Regions from separate parts of the Homo sapiens genome. Here region 1 is linked to region 2. The links come from fine-mapping of genetic effects on gene expression. A gene starts in region 2. The other region holds a variant in brackets. All regions are shown on one strand. Distances are from middle to middle.

What was found. PIP is the estimated chance that this variant, and not a neighbour inherited with it, causes the effect.
Region 1: its variant is fine-mapped to the expression of FAM110C in whole blood (INTERVAL, PIP 0.98).

The regions. Positions count from the first base shown.
Region 1 is chr2:103,494-106,401 of GRCh38, reverse strand. No RefSeq gene overlaps it. Among named protein-coding and RNA genes, the nearest start is that of FAM110C, 58 kb to the right of the region's middle. The variant C/A (reference allele first, on the strand shown) is at 1,398.
Region 2 is chr2:45,246-48,153 of GRCh38, reverse strand. FAM110C (family with sequence similarity 110 member C) reads left to right here and starts at 1,649. Exons shown (of 2, transcript NM_001077710.3): 1 at 1,649-2,714. The coding sequence starts at 1,769.

The sequences.
Region 1 (2,908 bases), 58 kb before region 2:
GAGGGCTTGCCTGTCGTGTACATGTCTCTGTGACTCCCAGGAGGGGAAGGGCTGCTCAGTTCAAGGTGTTCTGTTTGGTAGAGCATGTGTCCTCTGACAACCATGTCTCTGGACTTTTCAGACACTCTTGGGGATGGCACTCCACACACAATGAAGATGCAGGGGCCGGGGAACCCCAGCACTCGGTACCCTTTGTCCAAGATTAAAATCGGCCTGTGGGATGTAGTGAGAAGGCAGGTTGCATGGGTGTAACTGATGTATCTTTTCCTTAACGTTATTATAATAATGGGTAATTTCTCAATAAAGCATTCTTTTTGGAGAAAAAAAGAAATAGCTAAGTTTATATGAGATAAAACAGACTTTAAAGGTAGAACAGTTAAAAAAAAAGACAAAGAAGGTCATTATATAATGAAAAAGAGATTAATCCAGCAATAAGATATAACAATTCTAAATATATATGTTCTTAACACTGGAACACCCAAATTTGCAAAGCAAATATTACTAGATCTAAAGAGAGAGATAGAGTGAAATAAAATAATCATGGAAGACTTCAATATCCCATTCTCAACAATAGACAGAGTATGTAGAAAAAAAATCAACAAAGACACATTGGATTTAAACTGTACTTTAGACCAAATGAACCTAACAGACATTTACAGAACATTTTACCTAACAACTGCAGAATATACATTCTTTCCATCAGCACATGGAAACTTCTCCACAATAGACTATATTCTAGGCCACAAAACAAGTCTCAACAAATTTTTAAAACTCAAAATTAAATCAAGTGTTTTCTCAGACCACAAGAGACTAAAACTAGAAATAAATACCAAGAGGACCTTTGGAAACTATACAAATACATGGAAATTCAACAACATGTTCCTGAACGGCTATTGGGTCAGTGAAGAAATTCAGATGAAAATCAAACATGTTTTGAAACAAATGAAAGTGAAAATACAACATAGCAAACCTTGTTGGATAAAGGAAAAGTAATGTTAAAAGGGACATTTATATCAATAAATTCTTATATCAAAAAAGGAGAAATATTACAAATTAACAATCTAACAATTCACCTCAAGGAACTCAAAAAGCAAGAGCAAACCAAACCAAAAATTAGAAGAAGAGAAATAATAAAATTGAGCGGAATTAAATGAAATAGAGACTAAAGATACAAGGGATCAAAAGATGAAAAGTTGATTCTTCAAAAAAACAAACAGAATTAATAAACCTCCAGCTAGACTAACAAAGAAAAGAAGAGAGAAGACCCAAATAAACAAAGTCAGAAACGAAAAAGGAGACTTACAACAGATAACACAGAAATACAAAAAGATTGCTGGAGACTATTATGAACAACTATACGCCATCAAACTGGAAAACCCAGAGAAAACAGATAAATG[C/A]CTGGAAACATATAATATTGAATCAGAAAGAAACAGAAAACCCGAACAGATCAATTATAAGTAGTAATACTGAATCAGTAATAAAAGCATCATATCCAACAAAGAAAAGCCCAAGATTGAATGCCTTCACTGCCAAATTCTACCAAACTTACAGAGAAGAAATAATACTATCCTCCTGAAACTATTCCACAAAATGAAAGAGAAGGGAATTCTCCATAACTCATTCTATGAGGCCAGCATTACCCTGATATCAAAATCAGACAAAAACCCAACACAAAAGGAAAACTACAAGCCAATATTTCTGGTGAGTTTAGACACAAAAATTTTCAACAAAATAATAGCAGCTTGAATCCAACAGTACATCAAAAAGATAATACACCATGATCGAGTGGAATTTATCCCAGGGATGCAAGGATGTTTCAAAATATGCAAATTGGTAAACATGATACCTTACATCAACAGAATGAATGACCAAAACCATACGATCATCTCTAATAGATGCAGAAACAGCATTTGATAAAATGCAGTATCTCTTCATGAAAAATACTCTCGACAAACTAGTCATAGAAATAATATACCTCAAAATAATAAAGACCATTTATTACAAATCCATAGCTACTTCATACCGAATGGGGAAAAGTTGAAACCTTTTCTCTAAGAACTTGAACAAGACAAGGATGCCCCCTTTCACCACTCCTATTCAGCATAGTACTGAAGTACTAGCCAGAGCAATCAGACAAGAGAAAGAAATAAAAAGCATCTAAATTGAAAAGGAGGAAGTCAAGGTGTCCCTCTTTGCTGATAATATAATCTTATATCTAGAAAAACCTAGACTCCACCAAAAATGTCTTAGATTTGATAAATGAATTCAGTAAAGTTGGTTGATACAAAACCAATGTACAAAATTCAGTAGCATTTCTATACACCTATAGTGATCCAGGCAAGAAAGAGGTTAAGAAGGCAATCCCATTTACAATAACTACAAAAAAATACCTAGGAATAAATTTAACCACCAAAAAAAAAAAAAACTAGGCAACATGAATGAAATAAATTGAAGATGGGACAAACAAATGGAAAAACATCCCATGTTCAGGGATCAGGAGAATTAATATCATTAAGATGACAATGTTGACCAAAGCAATCCACAGATTCAAAGCAATCCCTATTAAAATATCAATGTCATTCTTCACAGAATTAGGAAAAACAATCCTAAAATTCACAAGGAGCCAACAAAAGAACCAGAATAACCAAAGCAATTCTAAAGGAAAAAACAAACAAAACACACCAAAGCTGGAGGCATCACATTACCTGACTTCAAAATGTATTACCAGCCTGTAGTAATCAAAACATCATGGTATTTGTATAAAAACAGACACATAGACTAATGGACAGAATAAAGAACCCAGAAAAAAAGTTACATCCCTAAAGCCCTCTGATCTTCTACAAAGTTTCCAAAAAACTTACACTGGGGAAAGGACTCCCTCTTCAATCAACAGTTCTGGGAAAATAAT
Region 2 (2,908 bases):
AGAAATTTTTACAGGTGACAAAACAACCTGGAACGTTTGTTACCTGTCCAAAGGTAAATTGTGGACCCAGGGTCAAATTCCAGAGGTCCTGTACTTTGCAGTTCTCTGTCTTAGAAGTGCTGCTGTTGCCCATGAAGTAGTGCAAATTAGGAAAAGAAGACACTTTGGGCTACACAATTAAAAAGGTTTTTTCCTCTGACTTAGGGAACAGGCTTGCCAAGCAGAGAGCAGGCTGGACTTTAGACCTCAAGGCCCCATCCTCCCGCATCCTGTAGGAAACCATCTGTGGCAACCCAGGAGCTCCCCCTTTCTCCATCTCTGTCCCTCTCTTTCACTCCCCACCCCCGCATCCTTCCTTCTCTTCTCCCACTCTCTACTTTATTGGCCTAGACTCCTTTTCCTATGAGTCTTACATGTTCCAACGAGGCTGTCTGGGCGGTCTGGCTTTCAGGAGGCGATTTATTGTTGTGCTACTATCCCTATGAAATTTTGCTTCGCTGGGGCTCAAGGAGATTAAAGACCCCCAAGGCCCACTCAGCACCACCCTGCTGCGGTCCTCTTCCTCGTTGGTGAGGTGTTCGTGCCCACTTTGGGGGCCCATCTGCACCTGTCGCCCTCCCTGCCTTCCGGGCTGCTGCTGCTCGGAGCGTTCAACCACAAGGCTGAAAGCACAGCCTGTTACGGAGTTGTCTTCACAACGCGATAACGTGAACATTTCACATGTCTGAGAGATAACTTTAGTATTTTGTCCAAATTTTTGAAATAATGGAGTTTGGGAAGTATTTTATCTTAGACTCTTAGCATTCCTAGGCTGATCCACTGCCTGGTGAACTCGTGGTTTCCCCGTTGCCTCGGTTACCGTAAAAATAGCAATGATTCTGGACACTTGGCTGGGCTTCTTCCAAATCCACTGAGCCGCGCCTGGGGCCCCAGCCTGCCCCACTGAGAGTCCTAGCTCGGTCCTCGGGCCCGGCCACGCCCGCTGCCGGCCAGCGACCGAGTCGGACCCAATCCGAGGCCCTGCGTTCTTGCCACCCAACACGTAGGCTGATCCTGGCGTGCGCTGCGTGTTCTTTCCTCTTATGTCCTATTCCTTTCTGTTAATAAGAATATGAGCTCAGGTAGACAAAATTAAACAGTCAAGTTTCCAAACACGATGAGGTCACTTTAAGAATTCAAAGGATGTGAGGCACCTGCCCGGGGGAGGTGGGGGGACGTCCCCTCTGCTCCCCCTCCCCGGAAATGCCTGCGTCCAGCAGTGACCTCGGGGATCTGGGGCTGAGCGAGTGGGGGTTCAGAGCCTGCTCGCCCCAGCGTCCTCCAGGCGGTTGGCAGCGCCGCCGGAAGGTGAGGGGGGGCGGGGACGGCACCGGGCAGGAGGTGAGGGCCGGGACCCCGGACGCGAGGTGAGGGCGGGCGCTGGCACCCGGAGAGCGGCCAGGGAGGCGGGCCCGGGCGGGAGTGAGGAGGCGGGGACGGGCGGGGACGAGCGGGGATGCGGGGACGCGGCCAGGGCCGGGGCACCGGGCGGGGGCGGGGGCGGTGCCAGTCGGTGTGGGCGATGAGGTCGGGAGGGGCGGGAACTGGGGAGTTTCGCCAATCGGTGCAGACTCCGGTTCTCCCCAACCCCGGGCCTGGGCAGCTGGGCACTGGGGCGCCGTTCCCCACCCGGCGCGGACTTCGGAACCGGCCCTGGGACTGACTGGCTCTACCACTCGAGCGCGTCTCCGCTGGACCCGGAACCCCGGTCGGTCCATTCCCCGCGAAGATGCGCGCCCTGGCGGCCCTGAGCGCGCCCCCGAACGAGCGGCTCCTTCCCCGGGACCCCGCGGCTACCCGGGACCCCGACGCCGCGCGGCCGGCGCGCAGGAGCGCAGTGGAGAGGCTGGCGGCGGATCGCGCCAAGTATGTGCGGGGTCGGCCGGGGACTGGCCGGGGCGTCGCTTCCGAGGGCAGCGGCCCGGGGGCGATCAAGTGCCCGGGGAACGACCCTGGGCCCCCGGCCCGCGCCCCGGCCCCGGTGGCGCGCAGGGCTATTGCGCGGAAGCCGTTGAGACCGGACTCGCTGATCATCTACCGGCAGAAATGCGAATTCGTGCGAGGATCGGGCGCCGACGGCCCCAGGGCAAGCCTGGTGAAGAAGCTCTTCCAGGGGCCGGGTAAGGACAAGGCGCCGGTGCCCCGGACGGGAGACGAGGGCAAGGCCGGGAACCCGGAGACGGTCCCGACCACTCCTGGCCCCGCGGCGGACCCCGCAATCCCCGAGACCCCAGCCCCAGCCGCGCGGTCCGCGGCGCCCTCCAGTGTCCCGGCCGCGCCCCCTGGGCCAGAGCCGCGGGTGGTGAGGCGTCGGGGGCTGCAGCGCTCACAGTCGGACCTCAGCTCCCGCTATTCCGCTGCCTTGGCCGAGTCTGACACCTTCTTCCAGTACTGCGGCCTGGACCCCGAGGTGGTGGAGGCCCTGGGGAGGGAGAACTTCACCGCGGGGTCGGACTGTGTGACCCTCAAGGTGCGCAGCGTGAGCGTCGCCACCTCCGGCAGCGGCTTCTCCCGGCACAGCGGCGGCGACGACGAGGGGCTGCAGGAGGAGGAGCTGATAGAGCAGGTGCCCAGCACCACTTCGGTCATCGAGAGGAACGCCCGCATCATCAAGTGGCTGTACACCTGTAAGAAGGCCAAGGAGACCCCCAGCCAGGAGCAGAGCCGGACCCGAGGTGTGTGCCCAGAAGGCTGGGGGCGGGGCTGGCCGTGTGCGGGGCTGTGAATCTTGGTGAGTGTGACCGAGCTGGGCGATGGCCAGTTACAGCTGCTTAGAATTGAGTGCGATTTTGAGCTACAGTGTGAAAGGGACCCAAGAGACTGACGCAGAGGCTTGTGAGTTGAGCCCCCGCTGCTGAAGAGCAGAAGG